2 separate regions of the Homo sapiens genome follow, and region 1 is linked to region 2. Evidence: fine-mapped expression QTL. A gene starts in region 2. The other region holds a variant in brackets. All regions are shown on one strand. Distances are between the middles of the regions. Region 1 overlaps GRK5 (G protein-coupled receptor kinase 5). Region 2 holds the start of GRK5 (G protein-coupled receptor kinase 5).

Region 1 (11,659 bases), 41 kb after region 2:
CTGTCACCTCATACCTGTTAGGACAGATATTATAATAAAAACAAAAAATAACTTGTTGATGAAGATGTGGAGAAATGGGAACAGTTGTGCACTGTTGGTGGGGATATAAAATAGCATAGTCAGCTACTATGGAAAATAGTATGGAGGTTCCTCAAAAAATTAAAAGTAGGATTACCACATGGTCCAGCAATCTCACTTCTGGGTTTTTATCCAAAAGAATTCAAGGCTGGGCGCGGTGGCTCGCACCTGTAATCCCAGCACTTTGGGAGGCCGAGGTGGGTGGATCACGAGGTCAGAAGATCAAGACCATCCTGGCCAACATGGTGAAATCCCGTCTCTACTAAAAATACAAAAAAATTAGCTGGGCGTGGTTGCGTGTGCCTGTAGTCCCAGGTACTCTGGAGACTGAGGCAGAAGAATCTCTTGAACCCAGTAGGCGGAGGTTGCAGTGAGCCAAGATCGCACTACTGCACTGCAGCCTGGCGACAGAGCAAGACTCTTTCTTAAAAAAAAAAAGAATTCAAATCGGGATCTCAAAGAGATATTTGCACTCCCTTGTTCATTGCAGCATTATTCATAATAGCCGAGAGGTGGAAACAACCTCAAAGTCTATAGGTAAATGAATGAAATGAAAAAACTGTGGCGTGTTCGTGCAATGGAATACTATCCAGCCTTATTAAAAAGGAAATCCTGCCATAGCCACAACATGTATGAACTTGTAGGACATTATCGTAAGTAAAATAAGCTAGTCACAGAAGAACAAATAATGCACAATTCCATTCATATGAGAAATTTATAGTAGTCAAACTCATAAGAGAATGGTGGTTGCCAGGGGAGAGGGAAATGGAGAATTGTTGCTCAGTGGGTATAAAGTTTCTGATATACAAGATGAGAAAGTTTGAGAGGTCTGCTGTATAACATTGTGCTTATAGTTAATCATACTGTGCACTTAAAAATTTGTTAAGGCCGGGCGCGGTGGCTCACGCCTGTAATCCCAGCACTTTGGGAGGCCGAGGCGGGCGGATCACGAGGTCAGGAGATTGAGACCATCCTGGCTAACATGATGAAACCCCGTCTCTACTAAAAAAATACAAAAAAGTTAGCTGGGCATGGTGGCGGGTGCCTGTAGTCCCAGCTACTCGGGAGGCTGAGGCAGGAGAATGGCGTGAACCCGGGAGGCAGAGCCTGCAGTGAGCCGAGATCATGCTACTGCCCTCCAGCCTGGGTGACAGAGCGAGACTCCATCTCAAAAAAAAAAAAAAAAAAAAAAAAAAGAAAAAAAGATAAATTTGTTAAGAGAACAGATCTCATGTTGTGTTTTTTAAAATCACAATAAAAATATACAGTTATCCCTTAGTATCCTTTGGTCATTGGTTCCAGGTCCCCCCTTATATACTAAATCCATGGATGCTCAAGTCCCTGATATAAAGTGACATAGTATTCACATATAACTTATGCACATCATCATCCAAACTCTAATCTCTGGATTACTTATAATACCTCATACAATGTAAATGCTGTGTAATAGTTGTTATACTGTGTTGTTCAGGGAATAATGACAAGAAAAAAGTCTATATGTGTTCAGTACAGACGGCTTTTTTTTTCCCCCTCAAGAGTTTTCAGTTGGAGGGTGGTTGAATCCATGGATGTGGAACCTGTGGATAGGGAGGGCTGACTGTATGTGTATACCAAATCATGTAAATTTTATAATAGTTTATTTTTTGTTCCTGATGTAATGGGAAGCATTTGGAAAACATAAAATTGATCCCATCACAAAAGAGGAATTAAGATTGCCTTGGGTTAAGGGTTAAGTAATGTCCTATCACCAGTTAATCTGCCAAGGATGTTGGTCATGGCCACATTCAAGAAGTGGTGTCTGGAGGCCACAATGAGATGGCCCAGTTCAGACATCGGCTAGAATTGTGTGGCAGAGCGTACAATTATGTCACGAATTTGGGATTAGCATGGCATACCTAGTTGAGGTTTAAAGCTCCCTCCTGCACCTTCCAAAGCAGGTGTTGCTTGGGGTTGAAAACCTTCACTGTTTGGTCAACAGAAGGCCCTCACAGCTCTGATGGGAATGTCACCTGAGAAGGGCTGGTCTCCTCGTGGATTTGCATTTCCGCACCTTCAGACACTGCCTCAGCCAGCTGCTGTTTTAACTGGCACAGAGGGCCTCGCTGAGAGCCTCTTGGGTTCTATCCAGATCTGAGAAGGAATCTGGGATGCCGGGGTCAGATCCGTGCCCTGGCCCGAGGATGGGATTTTGTACCCCGTTGCTTTCTGCAGTTGTGATGAGGTGGTGCTTGGCAATGGCCTGGAGCTCGGCATCTGAGTGACTGTCCGTCCTAGGGCGTCCAACTCCAGACCTCTCTTACCCAGGCCAGCGGAGGGCGGAAACTCTGAGAACATTCCATTAGAATAAGATACGTTTAATAAGAGCAATGGAAAATGGTAAACCTGACTTGGGGAAAGGGAATGTGCTCTTTCATGTAAAACAAACAAACAAAAAATGTGACTGTGAGAAGCATCCAGAAAAATACGATGACCTGGAGGCTGGATTTAAAATTGGCACTGAGGGAAATCTCATTTCCACAGTCGATGACTCCCCCTTCAGCTATGTTCATGCCAGTGGAGCAAACCAAAATAACTTTATAAATTAAAGTTTATGTAGTCAGGAAAGCTATGCCTGGACTATCACACACCAGATGAAACCCTTGAAGGCTTTGTTTACAACCGACATCCTGGGGTTGGAGGTTAATAGTGTCTGGAGAAGGTTAGGTCATGCACATGTTTAATAGCAATTAAAACAAAATCACTGGTGATGGTCAAAGAGACACAGCTATGTTTATTTACTATAGTTTATGCCACCTTTGTTTGTTTGTTTGTTTTGCCCTCTGGAAAAAATGTCTTTGTCCTGCCATAATTAATTGTAACCAGCTTTTGTTTAGAGGGGGCCACATGGAAACTGCTCAGAGAGCTCAAAGTGTGTTGGCAAGTGGTGACTTGTAACTAGTACCTCAATCATTTTCTTTTATGATACACATAATAGAAGGATGCATTTGGGATGTAAAAGTTTCAAATTATAGGGGCACATATATATACAGACAATCATGAAAGTCCCCCCCACCCTGCCTGGCTGCTGACATTTGGTGATAATCTTTCCAGACATCTTTCTAAATGCTGACTGTTTATATGTGAGTGAACAAGTGTTTATATCCATATGCACACAAATACGTAATTAGCTTTATTTTTATTTTAATTTCTTTTGAGACAGGGTCTCAGGCTGGAGTGCACTGGTGTGATCATAGCTCACTGCAGCCTCAACCTCCTGGACTCTAGCAATCCTCCCACCTTGGCCTCTGAAGGAGCTGGGACTATAGGCATGTACCACCACACCCAGCCAATTTTTAAATTTTTGTGTGGAGAAAGGGTCTTGCCATGTTGCCCAGGCTGGTCTCAAACTCCTGGGCTCAAGCAATCCTCCTGCCTCTGCCTCCCAAAGTGCTAGGATTATAGAAGTGAGCCACTATCGCTGGCTGTTGTCGTTATTTTTGATCCATAAAAAGAGGGTCATGATGTGTGTGTTGATGTACAGCTTGCTTTTTTCACTTACACATCCAGAGTTCCTTCACACTGGCCCATGTGCAGATGACATTTTTTTAATCCTGCAGGGCGTTCCATAATATGAATTCTGTTCCTAATTTATTGAGCCATTTCCTCACCCTTTCTTTTTGATACTAAATGAAGCAATGATAGCATGAGATTATGAATGTGCCTTGTGGAGCTTAGACTGCCTGGCTTTGAAACAGGACTTAGACTAGATGAGTGACCTAGGGCAGGGGGTGGCAAGCTATAGCCTCCATGGCAAATCCACCCCGCTGTGTTTCTGTAGGGCCTGTGAGGCAAGACTGATTTTTTCATTTTTAAATGGTTAAAAAAAAAAGGTAAGTATTTCCTAATATATGAAAACGGTGTGAAATTCAAAATTCAGTGTCCATTAACTTGTTTTGTTGAACAGCATGCTCATTTGTGGATCTATTATCTAGGGCTTTTTTCATGCCACAGAATTGAGTAGTTGTGACAGAGACCATATGGCCCACCTAGAATATTTACCATCTGGCCTTTTACAGAAAACATTTGCCGACCTCTGACCTAGGGCAAGTTACTAATCTCTCCATGTCTCAACTTTCTTTTCTTTAAAATGGAGATACTAGCTGGGCGCGGTGGCTCATGCCTGTAATCCCAGCATTTTGGGAGGCTGAGGTGGGTGGATCACCTGAGGTCAGAAGTTCAAGACCAGCCTGGTCAACATGGTGAAACCCCGTCTTTACTAAATATACAAAAAAATTAGCCGGGCATGGTGGCGGGTGCCTGTAATCCCAGCTACTCAGGAGGCTGAGACAGGAGAATAACTTGAACCCAGGAAGCGGAGGTTGCAGTGAGCCGAGATCGTGCCATTGTGCTCCAGCCTGGGCAACAAGAGCGAAACTTCGTCTCAAAAAACAAAAAACGAAAAACAAAAAGGAGATACTAATAATACCTACCTTGTAGGGTGAAGTGACTTAATATATATATCAAATAAATATCATATGTAGAATACCTACTTTGTAGGCTTATCTAAGTTACTTAGTACATATATCAAATAAATATTATGTGACACACCAGGTATATCATGTATCAAATATGTATGAATTGTGTGTAAACACTTTAAACATTTTATTTTATTTTATTTTACTTATTTGAGATGGAGTCTCACTCTGTTGCCCAGGCTGGAGTGCAATGGCGCGATCTCGGCTCACTGCAATCTCCATCTCCCAGGTTCAAGCAATTCTCTTGTCTCAGCCTCCTAAGTAGCTGGGACTACAGGTGCGCTCCACCATGCCCATCTAATTTTTTAAATATTTTTAGTAGAGATGGGGTTTCATCATGTTGGCCAGGCTGGTCTTGAACTCCTGACCTCAGGTGATCTGCCTACCTCGGCCTCCCAAAATGCTGGGATTATAGGCGTGAGCCACTGCGTCCAGCTGACTTTGAACTTTTTAAATGCTCAAAAAAGTTTACTATTACTGTGTCATTGTTATTGTAAGTGCATAACTCTTTGTGCACGTGTGCAAGGATGTCACAGATACCTGGCAGTGGGCTTAAAGATGAAGGGTCTTAACAAATTGCCTTCCAGAATGGCCCCACTAAGTCATGCTCCCAACAGTGGAGTCTCTGCTTTCCCGCATTCTTGGCAACTCTGGATAGGGACTAGGGCTTAGAAAAGAACACTGAATCCTCAAAGAGCCTCTGACCTCCACAGAGGCTCTTCAGAGTCTAGGAGTGCTGTGCCCAGACCTGTGGGGTGAATCTCCCTGGAAAGCCTTCAGTCAGAACATGCTCATTGTTTGTTGAGTGAGAGTCTCTTCTGTGTTAAGCCTTTGACCTGTAAATTTTCATTTTACAGATGAAGAAACTGAGGGGCTCAGAGAAATTAAATCACCTGCTCCAGGTCCTGAAGCTACTTGTGGATGTAGGGTTTGAACTCAGTTGTGGGGGCCTTCATACAACTTTCTTTGCCATTCTCCCTAATTCCAGGAAGGATAAGGCAACGTCAGAGATAGTCATTTTCTTTAACTTTTTCTTTTTCTTTTATTTGAGGCAGGGTCTCGCTCTGTCACCCAGGCTGGAGTGCAGTGGCGTCATCACAACCTATTACAACCTTGATCTCCCAGGCTCCAGGCATCCTACAGCCTCATTTAAATTTTTTTTTTTTTTTTGTACAGTCAAGGTCTCACTTTGTTGCCCAGGTCTTGAACTCCTGGACTCAAATGATCCTACTGCCTCGGCCTCCCAAAGTGCTGGGATTACAGGCATGAGCCACTGTGCCTGGCCCTACACCACATATTCCATCCACACTTTTTCCTTAAGTCAGCACCTTGATGACTGGATCAGAGCTACACACAAAAT[T/G]GGAAGTGAACGTTGGAGAAAGTGGCTTAGTCATGACCTGTGTTTATCTCCTCTTGCTCTGAGTAAAGAGGATGTGTAATAGAGTATGTTACTATATTTTTCATATCCCGATGCCATAGCCTGTGCTGCCCAGTCACACTGAGAACAATGCAGTTCTCATAGATAACCCGTTGTTGGGTGATATGTCTATTTCTAGGCATCTCCACGCTCTCCTATCGAGGGCCTTTGCAACAGTATTTCCCATGTTCCATCAGCGCGTCTGCAAAACATGAAGCAGCTTCATTCACCCAGAGACTCCTGACCTTGTGCATGAGGGGAAAATGTTTCTGGTTTTGTGTGTGTTTTCAATGACGAACATTTGCATTCTTTCCTCCCCTCACTTTTTTTTTTTCTCACGTTGACATTAAGAAACAACAACAAAACGCTGCTTGCTCCCAAACTGTTTGAATTTAAAACTCTGAATCTTAATTTGCATAGACAGTAGTTCTTTACAAGGAATGTGAACCATTTGACAGAATTTCCTGAAGGAACAAAGAGCCATGATTTCCTGATTAAAACCATGTTAAAACAAAAAGCAGACTATAACCAAAAGGCTCTGTAAGAGTATTTCTTGTTCAATCAGATTTCAAAGGCAGCACAAGCTGGATGTTTATGGCATCACCAATGCCTTTCTGTGATGCCTGAGCTTTTCAAGAACATACTCAGAACTTTGTCTTAAGCCTGTCTTTACTCGGAGCTGTCTCCCGAAGCCTTGGCCTTCCTCTCCGCAGCTTCAGTTACTGAGTCACTGGAACAGAGGAAGAAGCCCAGGCTTCCATTCTGACAGGCTGCGAACATTTATCTGGAGTTGTAATTGTCATACTCCCACGTTATTTTCTTGCTGTCTTCTAAAGCGATGATGAAAGATGTCTGGGGGAAAGAAAATAAAACAAAAAACCTTCTAGCATCTACACACCTAAAGCAGGGTTTGTCAACCTTGACACCGTTGCCATCTGGGGCTGGATAATTCTTTGTCATGGGGGCCGGCCTGTGCGTTGGATGATGTTTAACAGCATCTGTGGCCTTTAGCTTCATAGTTATGACAACCAAAAATGTCTCCAGACTTTGTCAAATGTCCTCTTGGGGGTAAAATTGCTCCTGGTTGAGAACCACTCGCCTCGATTTTGGTGGTCTAGAATTTGCAAGCTGCTTCTCCGCCCTGTGCATATCCAATCCTCAGCCCTTCCACTAAGGATTAGAACTTGATTTTCTTCTTTTCATCCCACCCTCCCTGCCTTGAGATATTGCTGCATCTGGACAGATGTGCCAAGTACAATTCTGGCTCAGGTGACTGAAGTCTAAGTCAGACATATGTCTTCACTCTCCCTGACCATCCCTCTTGCTGCTGGCCTGCGTGGCGTGCTCGTGCCGATAGGGGCAGCTGTGTGAGTAGCAGGACCATCCTGGAGACAGCCATGCAAAGGGAAACCATCTGGGTGGGGTGAGCTTGCCAGCCCCAGCTACAGGTCCTGGTGGAGTTGACAGTTGATGGATCACTGTGCTGTGACCTCTGGGCAGCCCAGGCCTGCGACGGGCAGAGAGCTGTCTTGTTTCTCCTTTTGGAACCTGAAGGGCAGAGACAGGGTGAAGTTGCCAGGAGAGGCTTTCAGCTGGATCCTAGGGGCCAGCGTGCAGCCCTTTCCCAGGGCTGGGGGTAGGGGAGAAGTGTCTCTCTCTGGGCCGTGTGGATGGGCCAGAACCCTGAGCTGGGTGCAGAGGGCTACGCTGGAGAGGCGGGGAAGGGCACTGGACCGGGTGTCTCGAGACCTGGGCATGGTTTTAGTTCTACCCCGGGTAGCAGCACGATCTTGTGCAAATAGTGTCTTCCTTCTGGTCCTCATGTTTCTCGTAAAGCTGACTTCCAACTAGAACAGTCTACCTTTCTATTTTTCTCCTGATTTGTAGAAAAAGATGGTGCTGTTAAGAGACGGAAATGTGGCCTTCCTAAATTTGCTTTGAGTCCTGAGTTCCTGATTTGGGGGCAAGTGTCTGTGAAGGGCTTGGGGTCACTCTGTGGCTTTTGCCTCATTTTTATGGGTCGTAGAGGATACCTCAATAAATAGCATTTTTCTTCCCTGAACAAATTGAGAGATGAGGCCATGGTTGAAACTTTGAACTTTGGAACTTGCCCAGATGTATCAGGTCAGTCACCCTCCTCCCCTGGGGCCAATAAACCAAGTGTTCCAAAGGCCAGGTGGTCTTAGGGAAAATGATGGACCCTGAAGGGTGAGGGTCATGGCCAGTGTGGACTACAGAGGATCCCCTAGCCACACTGGAGAGGGGACAGTGCCCTGGTTTTCCTGATACGCCCCCTTAGTGCTCAAGGCTGGTTTCAACCCTGCTGTACTAATCTGCTGATGAGGGAGAGTTGGTGGCTCAGTGGTGACAGCACAGGTTTGACAGAGGGTGTCTACACCACCCAGTGCCCCCTTGAGCTCACATCTGAGGGTCTGTTGAGATTACAGAGGCCCTTGATAGAGTCCGAAATTTGAAGGACAAGCAAGGAAGATTGGAGCATCTGTGAACTATCTCCAGTTCAGCATTGCATTAGAAAAGGAATTACATCAGGTCACTGATGTCTTCTCCTAACTCAGTGATCTCCACAGCCCCCTGGATCCTGCCAGGCCTGTGGAGAAGAGGGACAAGCCAGCCTCCCCACCACCCCTGCCCTCCGTTCCTTTTATATTTAAATCAGAAGCTTAGGCTCCTCCGTGTAGCTGCTCTATTTTTCATGCCTCTTGCCTGGGTCTAAGCCCTGGAGCTTAGGGTGCTGTGATATGCTTGCGGGATGCTGCCCCACCACGGCTGGAACCAGGGCTTCAGCCCGGCGCACACCCAGCTCGTTTGGAGGTCACGGCTCACCATAAAAATGGTGTGAGTGGCCAGCTCTTTTTTCACTGTGGCTCTGGGCAGCCCAGCCCAGCTCCGGGGTGGATGCAAGGCCTGAGAGTGAACTTTGTTGTGAATGATGACACAATTCCAGAAAAATGCAGTGTCTCCCAGATACGGCTTCTGGAGCTTTGCCTGGGGTGGGGGGCTGGAGGTTGTTTAGTGTTTGGGTTCCTGGTGGTTCTTTGCCCCAGGGGTGTGTGTGTGTGTGTGTGTGTGTGTACACATGTGTGTGCGTGCATGCTTTTTCATGAGGCACACTTATTTTCAGATGTTCACATGGACTCTTTTTGAGATTCCCCAGGGGAAAAGGAGAAAGTACAGAAAGCCGTGACACCTGATGGAAAATATTACGCTTTAGTCAACAGGGCTGATGTGTCTCCTCTGACTTTGCCTTTAAACCAAACCACACCACAGCGGGGAAAGATGAGCCACACATGAGGCCTGCTGGGCCGGTGACTGTCCCCTAAAGTGGGACTCTTGTAATTCTAAGCGCCTTTGAAAAATGCTTTCAGAATCATCCAGTACTTGAGTTGTAGGGGGCCTGAAAGGTCATCTTGGCCCAGTGGCTTGTTTTAAAGGAGGAGGAAACTGAGGGCCAGAGAGGACCTATGACCCTCCCAGGGTTGCACAGCTAGAACTCAAATCCTGTCTCTTGATCCTCAGAGAAGGGTTTGGTCTGTTCTGTTCTGCCCTACTTTAGTTTTTAGACAGTGTATTGTGATAAGTTTTAGATTTTTTTTTTTGTACTCTGCTCTTATTCATTCAACAACTCTGGGGATTTACTGGGGAACAGGCAGACCTGGTCCTTGTGCTCAGGGGGCTTACAGCCTAATGGGAAAGGCAGCTTGGAACAAGAAACCGTGCATGGGATTTGTAGCGGGTGTGGCTATCTTATTTCTGGCCAGTATGGGGAGGGAGAAGGGGTGGGAGTTGATGGCTGGGGCACGGAGGATGTCATTTCAGCTCTGTGGCCTGGGTCAGGTGCCCAGCCCAGCAATCTGAGTGTGGATGACTCTGGACTATTTCTCCAGGAGGAGGTGGGATTCACAGGCAGAGACATATCAAAACAGGGACCTTGGGATGTATGATGTATTTTGTAAGAAAAAAATGGAAAAACAGGCCGGGCACGGTGGCTCACGCCTGTAATCTCAGCACTTTGGGAGGCTGAGACGGATGGATCACCTGAGGTCAGGAGTTCGAGACCAGCCTGGCCAATGTGGTGAAACCCCATCTCTACTAAAAATGCAAAAGTTAGCTGGGCATGTTGGCAGGTGCCTGTAATCCCAGCTACTCAGGAGGCTTAAGCAGGAGAATTGCTTTAACCCAGGAAGCCGAGATTGCGCCATTGCACTCCAGCCTGGGCGACAGAGCAAGACTCAGTCTCAAAAAAAAAAAAAAAAAAAGAAGGAAAAACAGAGTAGAGCAGGAAGCTCTGTGTATGTATGCGCAGGTAAGGTCGTCAGGTGGGAGGAGGCCAGGAGATGAGCCATTTGGAAGCCCGGAGGTGGCCTTGACTTCCCTGATGGGAGGAGAGAGAGCTGCTGGGAGAGATAGGATCCAGGGAGGGGTGTGGCACAGGCTTCTGGAGGGACAGCAGCTATGGCCAGAGGTGGATCTCTTATTCTCAGGGGTATCAGGGACCCAGGCTCTTTCCACTTGGAACACAAGATAGCAGGGGCCTTTGTCACCAGCAGGATGGAAGCTGACACACAGGACACCCCTTCCAGGAAGCTTTGTCACATCGACTTCACCTAACTCCAATGACCTCTCCCTTCTGAGTCCCTCTGCACTTAGAGGCTCTTTCTGTTTGGACTGAGTGGTGGTTTTGGAAAGGCTCTTGTGTGATTTTCACTGGCGTGGACTCTTCCCCAGATGCTCACTTTGTACTAACACCGCTGGCTCATTATCACAGAGTCATGGAGCAGGCACTGAGACTCAGAGAGCTCTGTGGCTGCGCAAGGTCAGGGTAAAGGTGGGACTTCAGCCTCACCAGACTCCAGAGCCTCTGGCCGTTCCCGCCATGCCTGCTGCCCCCTGTCCTGGTGTGTTTTCTGCCCATTCTCCCAGACACGGGCTCCTTGAGGGACAAGGTGGTGAGTTAGCCCTCTTGCTTCGAGCCATCATTTATCATGGATTGTGCTAGCAGTCGTAGGTACACAGACGAGCAAGGCCTGGCTTTGCCCTCGAGAGCTGACCGGGTTGTAGAAGCTGGGATGCAGGGAGGGCTCTGGGCCCAGGGAACAACCACTTGAGGCAGCCAGGGAAGGCTTCTTGGAGGAATGACACAGGAGCTGGCTTGGGCTATATAGTCTCTCACTTTGCTGAACTTCCATTTCCTAGTAAGTAACTTGGATATGACTGTGAAGTTATTGCAACCATTGTGTAAAATAGTTATTCAAGCAAACCAGTTTGAAACCCTTTGCAAATAGAAGACACCGAGACTTGGTATTGACAGTCCTCTGTCAGGAGAGGATCCCAGTCTTGGCCCAGCCTCCACTGCACACTGTCCCAGGAAAGCCTCCCAGAGCCACCCTCTCGCTGCCTGCAGGGCTGCCCTTCAGTGGCCTCGACTCCTGTGGAGACTCTGCATTCCCGGCCAGATTTGCCTTTCCCTCTGGGCGGACCCCCCCACACACCTCACAGCACCAGCCTGGGAGCTTGGGAGGGGGCGTGAAACCAGCAGGTGGGAGTCTGGAGTCCTGGCTCCGGTAGTCGCCAGCCACTTCTTGTCCCCTGGTCCCTCATCCTCCATCCTCTAGGCCTACTCTTCTCTTTG
Region 2 (11,659 bases):
TGAGAGAAGAATTTGAAGGTTCCCTGTTTCTTTTGCTTTTTTATTTTTTAGAGACAGTCTTACTCTGTTACCCAAGCTGGAGTGCAGTGGGGCGATCATAGCTCAGTGCCACCATACCTGGCTAATTTTTAGGTTTATTTCGTAGAGACAGGGTCTCGCTATGTTGCCTAGGTTGGTCTCGAACTCCTGGGCTCAAGCGATCTCCACCCCCCCATCCCCTGCACCCTTGCTTTAGCCTCTAAAAGTGCTGGGATTGTAGGCATGAGCCACTGCATCTGACTTCTTTTGCATTTTTGGCTCAGCTGCTCCTGAGTGGAGTCTGAAGCTGGCTGTCTTTGACATATTCCCATCCCTCCATCCTCACCCCCACTCCTCCATTTGGATTTCCCTTCTTGCTCTCAGCTGGCTGTCAATGATTCCCTACTTAGCTATTTATATTTAATAGCCTACTCTTCCTTGAATCAAACCCATTTTTCAAGAAGACCACGAGTTGTTAGTGCAGTTAATTGAAAGGAATAAAGCCATAATGGTGGAATTATAGATGAAAATGGAAAACCCCTTGAAATCTTAATGATTTAGTCAACTGGGTGCTTTGCCTTCTTATAATACAAGTTCATCCCGGCAGCCACACAGAACAGTTACTACCAAGCTGTGCTGGCTAGCTTGCGCAAGCCAGAAATTAAGTGCACCAACTCTGAGTCAGGCTGACAGGTTCAAATCCCGGGTCTTCTACTTATTACTTATGTGACCCTGGACAAATTATAAAACCTTTCTTTTTTTTTGAGGAAAAAAAAAAAGTCTCACTCTGTTGCCCAGGCTGGAGTGCAATGGCATGATCTTGGCTCACTGCAACCTCTGGCTCCCGGGTTCAAGTCATTCTCCTACCTCAGCCTCCCGAGTAGCTGGGATTACAAGGCACCTGCCACTACACCCAGCTAATTTTTGTATTTTTAGTAGAGACGGGGTTTTACCATGTTAGGCTGGTCTCGAACTCCTGACCTCAGGTGATCTGCCTGCCTTGGCCTCCCAAAGTGTTGGGATTACAGGCGTGAGCCACCGTGCCCGGCCTATAAAACCTTTCTTAACCTGGTGCTTTATCTATAAAATAGGCCTGTGTTCCCTACCTCATCTGGATATTGTGTTCAAGGAGATAATCCATTTAAAAGACCACAAGAGCCTGGCCCACAGTTGGTGTTGAGTAAATGCTAGCCATTATTGTTCCATTCTTGCATTGGAGTGTCTGAATTTCCTCATAGAGGCACAAAAACCTGATGTACAACCATGTATTTGTGTAGGCAGGATGCAACAGCTTGTAGTGGACAAAAAAATAGTCTAACACTAACTTGCTGAGTGACCATGCCAACTCACTTACTTTGGGTCTGTTTCACATCTGTAAAATGAGAGGGAGAGGCAGGGGTTCCCAGGATGGAAAACTTAAATGTCTATACAGGCCAGATAAATAAAATCACTAGTGACTTGGGCTGGGTATAAGACAATAGGGAGTTACGGTAAACTAGAAAGCTTTTCAACTCTGAGTGTGGTCTACTGACCACGAGGATCGACAGAGCCCTGGAGTTTGTTAGAAAGAGCAACATCTCAGAAACCACCCCAGATCTATCCAAATGCAATCTGCATTTTAACAAGATCCCCCGTGATTTGTATGCTCATGAAACTTTGAGCCAGGCATGGTGGCTTATGCCTGTAATTCCAGCACTTTGGGAGGCAGAGGCGGGTTGGATCACTTGAGTCCAGGAGTTCAAGACCAGCCTGGCCATTATGGCGAAACCCCGTCTCTACTCAAAATACAAAAATTAGCCAGTCATGGTGGCACACACCTGTAATCCCAGCTACTTGGGAGGCTGAAGTACAAGAATCATTTGAACCTGGGAGGCCGAGGTTGCAGTGAGCCGAGATTGGGCCACTGCACTCCAGCCTGGGTGACAGAGTAACTGTCTCAAAACAAAACAAAACAAAAAAACAAACAAAAACAACCTTTGAGAAAATTGTTTTTTTTTTTTTTTTTTTTTTTTGGTTCGGAGTCTCGCTCTGTCGCCCAGGCTGGAGTGCAGTGGCGCGATCTCGGCTCATTGCAACCTCCGTCTCCCGGGTTCACGCCATTCTCCTGCCTCAGCCTCCTGAATAGCTGGGACTACAGGAGCCCAACACCACGCCCGGCTATTTTTTTTTTGTATTTTTAGTAGAGACAGGGTTTCACTGTTAGCCAGGATGGTCTCGATCTCCTGACCTCGTGATCCTCCCGCCTCGGCCTCCCAAAGTGCTGGGATTACAGGCGTAAGCCACCGCGCCCGGCCCAAGAAAATTGTTAAGGTGCATAAGCCATCTAAAGGCATTCAAAAATTTTCTTTCTTTTTTTTTTTATGTTAGCCGAATAAACAAACTTCGGGCTTCATCAGGCCCTATGCTGCCAGCAAGTGACCAGCGTGGTTGGTGGAGGGCTCTAGGAGCTGCCAGCTTTAGGGGTCTCGCTGTCTGAGAGAGATCCTTTCATTAAAGGTTAGGGCTCTAGGCACGTGAATATGTAGCAAAGACCAAGCCTGGATTGCTTAGAACAGTAATTCCTGGAGTGGTAAGTGCCTGAAAAGTTACCCGCTGAGCCCTCCGCCTTCTGACAGGTAAACTGTTGTTGCCCCCATTTTGCAGACAAGATAAATGAGGCCCTGGGAGACTCACTGACCCAAGTCTAGACACCAGGAAGTGGTGGTGGTGGGTATACTCCCCCAGGAAAGCAGGTAATCTTGGGTTGTTACAATCAGTGACCAGACCAGTTTCCAAGGCCTGGAAGGTTTATTGATTTCTTTATATTCTCCAATGCATAATAACTGTTCTCTGTTTCTCTCGGCACCTCCCTGCGACTTCCTGGCAGCCCTGGGGACAGAGGGTTTCCTCCTTCTGGACAGAGAAGGCCCAGAGTCGGCTTCTGAACGGATATCCGGCCCGCAGGATGCAGAGGAGGCAAAGGCCTCATTGTTCTTTGGGGCCTGCCTGCCCCGCCCCCAGCTGTAGGACACTCGTGGCAGATCCCGGGTGACCGAAGACAGCCCATTTCCAGGAGTGGGGCCTTCGGAGCGGAGGGAGCAAGGAAACGGGGCTGAGCACAGACCTGGAGTCTGATGTTCTGAGCATAACACTGGAAGGAGCTAAGAGCCCCAAAATAAATAAGACCGGAATTTAAAAACGTTAATCCCACGCCGGCTTGGCGCTGGCCTGGCTGTTACTCATTAACGCTCCCCACGGCGGAGACTCCGGCGACTCCGTCTGCGTTTTTATTACTTAATCTGGCTGGGTTTGGCTGCAGGGAGGCTCGTGGATTTGCTGGCCGGGTGTGCTGGAAGGCAGTTTATTCACAGAATAAGCAGCTTCCCACGCTGGACCCTGAGCCCCAGGCGCCGTCCGCGTAGACCCCGCGCCGCGCACCGCGGCCGGCGGGGGGCGCTCGGGTCGCACCGAGAGCAGCGCGGGCAGCCAGCGCCGGGTCGCAGCCGACCCGCAGAGCCCTTCGCGCCCTCCGAGGAAACAAAGTGCATCTTTGTCCGCGGCCCGAGGCGCCGCGTGGGAGACGCTGGGCAGGGGCCAGGCCGGGCCGGCCGCCGCCGCGTGCGGGGACCCTGGGCGCGCGTCACTGACCCGGGACTCAGACCCTCGCGGGCCTGGCGCGGACCGGAGGAAGCGGGCTGTGGCGCGCGGCCGAGCTGGCAGCCCTCCCACTCCGAGCACGGCTCGGGACCCGCACTGGCTCCTGCCGGGCCGCGGCGCTTCACGCGCCGTCACCGGGGCCCGTGCACTCCGCTTTCCGGGCTGGCGACGGGGCGGGAAGGGGGCAAGCGGGAGCCTGCGGGGGGGTGCTGGGGACTTCGGCTTGGCTGGGCCGCCTTTGAGTCGCCTGTCGGCCGGGCGGTGCCCGCCTTCGCTTTCGGTGCCGTCCCGGGGCGGGTCCTCGCTCCGACAGCCGCGCGCCAGCCCAGCTCAGCCCCGGCGCCGCGCGGCCGGGAGGACTCCAGCTCCCAGCAGGCCCCGCGCCGCGAGCACCGAGGCAGGAGGCGCGCCTGGGCCGGCGCTTGCGCAGTGCGGCCGCCCGAGCCTGCTAGTACCACACCCCCGGGAGGGACTGAGGGGAGGCAGAAGCATCCGAGGCATTAAAGCATCCGAGGGAGCCGGAGGGGAGGAGAATGGAGTGACAGAGACACGCGGAGGGTGGGGGGTGGGGGGGAGCGTGTTGAGGGAGGGGGGAGGGGGGACACAGAGGGAGGAAGAAGCGGCGGCGGCGGCGGCGGCGGCGGCGGCTCCTCTTTGCAGAGGGGGAAACTCTTGGGCTGAGAGCAGGAATAATGCGGTAGGCAAGGCGGGCTGCTGGCTCCCCCGGCTCCGGCAGCAGCGGCGGCAGCCCGAGCAGCGGCAGCAGCAGCGGCAGCACCCCAGGCGCTGACAGCCCCGCCGGCCGGCTCCGTTGCTGACCGCCGACTGTCAATGGAGCTGGAAAACATCGTGGCCAACACGGTCTTGCTGAAAGCCAGGGAAGGTAAGAGGCAGGGCCGGTACGTGCCCGGCGCGTCCGCCGCGGGCCAGGGTGCGGGTGTCGGGTGGCGTGCGGGCTGGGGCTGCGCCCGTGCAGGATGCCCGCTGCCGGCGAGTGGGTCGCGAGCAGGACACTTCGGAGAGCGGCTCTGCAGACCCTTCAGGGTTCCTGCCTTGGGGCTCAGAGAATCTGGACTTGGGCTGAGAAGGTTGCAGGGATTTGGATGCTAACATATCTCCTAGTTTCCAGCGCTCGCCCTGCAGAGCGTGCCATCTCGGCAGCTGTTGAAAGGTCAGTTGGAAAAGCATTCATTCGGGGAGCGACGAGCAAACATGCACATAAAATAGCGTTTCAAGTCGGCCCGGGATGGTTCTGTGTGAACTGGTGTGTGTGTTCGAGGGGCGGGGGTGGAATGAGCAGAAGCCAAGTCTTTGCCTGCGCAGGCTGAGTTGATATAGACTATTGCTGGAAACCATCCGCTGGGATGTTTCTTAGGGAAATCCCGTCGTGTGGAAGGAAGCCTTTTAAAGGCAAAGTCAGATGTTGAGGAATTAGCCTTTTCATAGAATTATCAAAGGATGGCTGTACAGACCACCTAGAAAATAATTCAGTATTTCAGGTTTTTCTTTTCTGGGAGTGTGATAACTGAAATTGTTAGATTTTGGCTCAGTTAAGAAAAGAAAGGTAAGTGTGCTGGTGCTTTAGATACGTTTTCTATGCAAATCATTAGATTTCCTGCATTTAGCTGGCAGGAAATATTGTCTAAATGGAGTGTGTAAGATCCTGAGTCAAACCCTAAGAACGCATATTTTGACTCTTCCTTTTGATGAAAAACAGAAAAAAGGGGGGGGAGGCAGAAACTTGGGTGCTTCCTGAAATGATTGTGTTGTGTCCATGTAAACATATGTATTTAGGAATACCTGGAATTTATGTCGCATATTTTCCTTTTTTTTTTCTGGTCAAGATTTGAGCTCTAGTGTGCGACCTTTTTCATAAAAGGGGAAGAGGTTTTTCCCTTTCACGGGAGAACGCTTTATTTGATACAAGGTAGAAGGCAGACTGAGTAAGGGCTTGAGTTTAGAAGGATACTCGGTGAGCAGCCCATGAAAATGTCTTACCTGCTTAATATTTTCATTCACCTACTTTGATGAATGAAGGGAAGAATTTCTGGCCAGCAATAAAACGATTCGTGTTTATTCAGCCCGTTCCATCACCTTGTGGCTCCCTACACACTGTGGGGGTAGGTGATGCATAGCCTTCCGTGGGCAGCGTTTCAGCAACTCAACCCGGCATTCGTGTCTTACTTTCGTCGTCACTTGTCACTCTAAAGCAGCCAGTGGGCAAGAAGGTTTATTTCAGAAGCCCCGAAGGGAGGCAGTGCTTTGAAAACCCCAGCAGAGTTTAAAATATTCAGGTTAGTCTCCCTCCCATTGCTTAGCTTTGGTGGGAATAAATTTTTAGGAGAGGCTTGTTACTTGGTGACTTCAGGTTCTAAGGCCTGAGCTGTGTGTGTGTGTGTGGTTTTTTTTTTTTTTTTTTTTTTTTTTTCCTAACCTGACATTTTTAGTGGACAGGATCTAGGTGGGTGCTGGTAGGCTCTCCTCTGGGTTGGGGAATGGTCCTGAAAGGGAGGAAGCAGAGAAAACAGCCCTCCACCTCCCCCGCCCCTCTTTCAGCCTTTGCAGCTGGCCACCTAGTGGTGGGACACGGTTGTGTATCTCAGGATTCGGGGGCTGGGAAAGTTTTCACTCTCGCTCCATTCTGAAATTATTTCTTGGGAAATCACTGGGTCTGATGGTACTGGAGCCTTGCAAGTTTCGCTGGTTCCTCCTGTTGCCCAGGGAATCTGCCCCCGACATTTGCTGCTGTAGATATTTGTTTGCCTGATAGATGCTTTTTTTCTTCCCTGAGCATTTGGTTGCTTCTTTTATAATGCTTTGCTTAGAGTGGGCAAAGTGATATCAATTCCACCCGCCCCCTCCAAATTGTTCTCCCCAGTATTTTTTCACCAACGTGAATTTACTGTCTGATATTGTTGTTCGTTAGGCCAACAAATTGGGTTTTTTTCCCAGAGCCTTGGAGAAGAGAGCTGCAGGCTGGAAGCTTGTGTGGAGTGACCGACTCCCATTGGGGCAGAATTACAGTGATTGAAAGTGCTCAAGAATGTGCCTTTCACTTTTTTTTTTCCTTTTAAAGGCTTTTTCAATTTTGCTGTGAGAGTTTGGTCGTCATCTCATGGTGAGAAAATAGCTCTTGATGATGCCTTGGAAATGGAGAGGGCCTGCGGAAGCAGGGAGAGACTGACACGTGAACAAGAAAAATTAATCATTTAATGGAAACCTCATTTACAATTTGCATCTCTCCCCTTCTTTCTCTCTTATGCCTAGAGGAAAGCCATGATTTTAAGTGCTTCCAGTTTCTTTTGGCTGGGCCTTTATTAGAGACTTGAGCCCATATATCCTAATTAGTGTGGACACTTTTAGAAATTAAAGCAATTTATGTTTCTCTTCTCAGTTCTCATATATTTGAATTTATTTTACTAAACTTAGTAGTTCTCCAAATAACCATATTATCTAAATATTCAGAAATGAAATCTTCAGTCAGTTTAGTGAAATATCTAATATAAAACAGTATATTAAAAAAATCTGAGTTGTTTAAAAGGTTTAAAAACACTTCTTAAAGATTCTTGTCAGTGGTTACAGATGAGAAATATAATTGGCAAATGTGAAATTTAATTTAGTTCACTTAACAAAATACACCGTAAGCAATTTAAAATTTGGCTTTCAAGTAAAAGTCACATTTGTCCCAAACAATAGAGAAACAGACCTTGAAGAAAGACAGGCACACTTTGAAAATGCTGTAAAATAATTTGTAGTTGTCCATGTTGGTGGGTAACACTGGGACCTATCTTTTCTTTTTGTTTTGCATTAAAGACAGATGGCTCCTAAATTCACTGTATCTTCAAAGTCTTACCGTAATAAGACATAATATAAAGTGGAAAGCATTAATGTAGCAATAAAATAGAAAGCCTGTAAGTGGATTAGAGTAAAATGATGGATTGTTAGTAATTAGAAAATATAGCAAGCAAGCTTCATGAACACTTGTGATAATTATTTTAAAATAAGAAAAGGTAGAGGTATGGGTTCAAGATTTTGAACCACGGAAATGTATTTTGGGGCCTGTTTATTTGTCCTGGGTCTCATGAGAAAACATCAACTCGATCACTCTTAGGAACTTTAGATTGCTCTCCTAAAAAGTGCTTAAGGAAAAAAAGAAAGAAGTTGAGACTGAATTCATGGCAATTTATGGGAATGAGCTAAGTGATTAAGCATTTCATGAAAAAGAGGCCCAGACTAACTCTATCTATTTATTTACATTTCAGAATCTCAGAAAATTGGCAGGCGACCTAATGTTGAAATAATAATGAGAAGGAGAGTTTGCTGAGTGCCTTTTGTGTGTTTCTTTTTGGTTTTATTGTTGCAGTAAAGGTTTTTGTGTTTTTCTCATCTTCTAGATCTGTTGCCTTTCTTCTGAGTGAACAGTGGTGAGAAAAAATTTTGCAAGGCCCCGCTTTTCCTTTCTTCACAGGCCAGCAGTAGCCATATCTGATCAAAAAAGATACCTGAAGGAATATTGATCACATTTTCCTGAGGCCCTAGCAAGCACAGGAATTGAGAAGTTAGGACTGGAACAACTTTGTCATTTGTCACAATTGCCAAACATTAGAATACACAGGAACCGTTTTTTCAGGTAACTCTGTGACTTGGCTGGATCTTCCTGATCATCAAGATTAGCACCTCGGGGCCTGGAAGAGGTTAGGGAGGGCAGGAAGAAGGAGTGAGCCAGCATCCAGCTCTGCGTGGGGCAGGCTATGGCGTGGACAGACTTAACATTCCACAGCACGGCTGAAAGCCCTGGACCTCTTTCCCTTGCACCCCTAATTCATGGTGATAAAACCAAAACATGGTGAATTAGGTTATTAGAACGTTGGAACATCTCTGAAGCTCAAAGCCCTCTTATGGCTATGTGAAGGCATACGTGGAGGCATACGTACTCCACCCTGAAGCTTCTCCTTCAATTTTAATGTTAATCTTACCAAGCGACAGCTTTCATCCTGGTTAAGGCAGCTCGGTGTGTGTAAAAGCAGCCTGGCCTGTTAAACACAATGCCGTTAAATCAAACTGCCTTTCTTTTTTTTTTTTTAAAGTTTCCTTTTCAGTACTGACAACTTGGAGGTAGAGAAACCAAAAGCAATGTTTTCAGAAGGCCTTTTGCTTTCTTAAAGATTTCAAACGATGATTGTAGTTAATCTGGCTGCCTGTTTGAAAAACCATCAGATAAATGCCCACAAGGCTCTCATCTTTCAGTAGCTTAGCTGCTGCTTGTCAGATTCTAAACTCCAAAGTGCTTGACTCTTCCAGTGCCCAAACTAATCCTTGTTTAAATTATGTCTTCAGAAGCTATAACTCTTATAGTGGCTTGCTAAATGATACCCTTTGGATCTGGGCTGAAGACTTCCAGAATGCCCAAGTGAATTTCAGGAGCGGGCTCAATGTTTAACCAAATTCACCTTTACCAAGGGCTATTCAATCCATATCTGGGATGTTTTAAATAAAACTATCCAGGACTGTGGGCAATATTCAAAGTTAATATTTGTTGCCAATATGTTTGGAGTGCAAGATAAAGCATTATAATGTCTAGACATTTTTGAAATAAAAAAGTCTTCTGGTTACCAAAAGGCATTATTGTCATAGGTCATGCAACTCAGAGGTGAAACTTGAGAAAACAGAAAGTGACTACCAACAGGTGACACATTGAGAAGATAATTAGGAATTTCCTCAATCATACAGCCCTCAGCACCCATTTCTCACATCAAAATAGAATGGTGGAGCCGAGTGCGGTGGCACAGCCTGTGGTCCCAGCTACTCTGGAGGCTGAGGAAGATCATTTGAGCCCAGGAGTACTGGTCTGGAGCGAACTATGCCTATTGGGTATCTGCAGTAAGCTCGGCATCAATATGGTGACCTTTCGGGAGTGGGGACCACCAAGTTGCCCAAGGAGGGGTGAACTGGCTTGGTGGGAAACAGAACAGGTAAAAACTCCATGCTGATCAGCAGTGGGACTGCATCTGTGCATAGCCACTGCCCTCCAGCCTGGGCAACACACAAGACCCTGTCTCTAAAAATAAATAAATAAATGAATGGAATAGAAGAGAATATTGAAGACAAGGGGATGAAGGCATGATTTTAAATGACTAAAATGGTCTGGGCATGGTGGCTCATGTCTGTAATCCCAGCACTTTGGGAGGCCGAGGCAGGCGGATCACCTGAGGTCAGGAGATTGAGATCAGCCTGGCCAACATGGTGAAATCCTGTCTCTACTAAAAATACAAAAATCAGCGGGGTGTGGTGGTGCCCGCATGTAATCCCAGCTACTCGGAAAGCTGAGGCAGGAGAATCACTTGAACCTGGGAGGTGGAGATTGCAGTGAGCCAGTATTGCACCACCGTACTCCGGACTGGGTGACAGAGTAAGACTCTGTTTCAAAAAAGAAAAATAAAAAATTAAAATGTATTATGGCCTTAAATAATAGGGTTGATTTCCACTTTAAAACATATCCTGTTATATTTCAGTGAAAATTTTTATTTAAAAATATTCTAAATATTGAAAAGATGTATTTTGGGGGGGCAGAGATAATGTCATTCCTTTTATTACCATCCAAAAACTGGAAGAAGCATTTCATTTTGTGAAAACTGTGCTGCTTTTAAAAGAGAAAGTCCTTACTTCCTGACTGGACCCTTCCCCCACCCCTGCTTCTCATTTTGAGGAAACCATTCTTGAATAGGCTTCTGAAAATCTTACAAGAGTAAAATTTATTTGTTCAGCATTTGGTTGTTGAAGGACCCAGTGCGGAGGTGACATTCGGGTGTCAGCCTCAGATAATACAATGTGAAATGACTGAAAAGATGCAATTGGGCACTGCCGTTCTCTTTTTACATGTTTTTTTGTTTGTTTTTTGTTTTGTTTTGAGACAGAGTCTGCTCTGTCGCGCAGGCTAGACTGCAGTGGCGCAGTCTGGGCTCACTGCAACCTCTGCCTCCCAGGTTCAAGCGATTCTCCTGCCTCAGCCTCCTGAGTAGCTGGGATTACAGGCGCCCACCATCAAGCCTGGCTAATTTTTGTATTTTTAGTAGAGGCGGGGTTTCGCCATGTTGGCCAGGCTGGTCTCAAACTCCTGGCCTCAGGTGATCTGCCTGCCTTGGCCTCTCAAAGTGCTGGGATTACAGGCATGAGCCACTGCACTCAGTCTCTTTTGATGTTTTTTAACTGATCAACTAGGTGTGAACAGAACTGGATTTTTTTCCCCGAAGAGCTGAGGCTGACTGGGGTGTGACCTCCTTAGCTGTGTAGACTGCATTGACTCTACTGTGCCTAGAATTTGGACAATGGCCTGAGGGACCAGTATGTGATTTAAGCATAATTAAAAGGTTATACTTGAGGGATAGACCTGAATCTGGAAGACAACTGCTAATTTTCTGGGGCACTGAGGGGTTTTTGTTTTGTTTTGTTTTTTGAGACAGGGTCTTGCTGTCACCCAGTCTGTAGTGCAGTGGTGCCATCTCAGCTCACTGCAACTTCGACCTCCTGGGCTCAAGTGATCCTCCCACCTCAGCCTCCTGAGTAGCTGGGACTATAGGCTCGTGCCAACATGCCTGGCTAATTTTTGTATTTTTTGTAGAGATGGGGTTTCGCCCTGTTGCCCAGGTTGGTCTCTAAACTCCTGGGCTCAAGCAATCCATCCACCTTGGCCTCCCAAAATGTTGGGACTACAGGTGTGAGCCACCACGCCCGGCCAACACTGTTTTTATGAAGGTCTGTTCCTAGAAATGGAAACCATTAAAAACAATGGCAAGAAGACCCTTTGGTTGAGGAATGACAAGATCCAAGAGGAAAACTGGTGTGCCATGGCGCCTTCCAGGCAGAGCAGGTGTTCAGGGCAGAGGCCTGGGCGGGTAGACGGGCTGCAGTTCTGGAGTGAAGACGGTGGAGGCTGCATTCTTTTCTGGCTTTCTGTTGGGATTGGCCTGGGTATGTCCTTTGACATAGCCTGTCACAGGGAATGACC

Evidence for each region. PIP is the estimated chance that this variant, and not a neighbour inherited with it, causes the effect.
Region 1: its variant is fine-mapped to the expression of GRK5 in whole blood (TOPMed, PIP above 0.99).

Annotation. Positions count from the first base shown.
Region 1 is chr10:119,244,772-119,256,430 of GRCh38, forward strand. All of the region lies in intron 1 of GRK5 (G protein-coupled receptor kinase 5), which reads left to right. Among named protein-coding and RNA genes, the nearest start is that of GRK5-IT1, 42 kb to the left of the region's middle. The variant T/G (reference allele first, on the strand shown) is at 5,953.
Region 2 is chr10:119,203,433-119,215,091 of GRCh38, forward strand. It overlaps GRK5 (G protein-coupled receptor kinase 5), which reads left to right and starts at 4,139. Exons shown (of 16, transcript NM_005308.3): 1 at 4,139-4,537. The coding sequence starts at 4,486. It overlaps GRK5-IT1 (GRK5 intronic transcript 1), which reads left to right and starts at 4,989. Exons shown (of 2, transcript NR_186528.1): 1 at 4,989-5,218; 2 at 8,049-9,272. It also overlaps the pseudogene RN7SL749P. RefSeq lists enhancers at 2,646-2,725, 2,836-2,885, 2,906-3,015 and silencers at 3,356-4,185, 4,396-4,465, 4,516-4,565.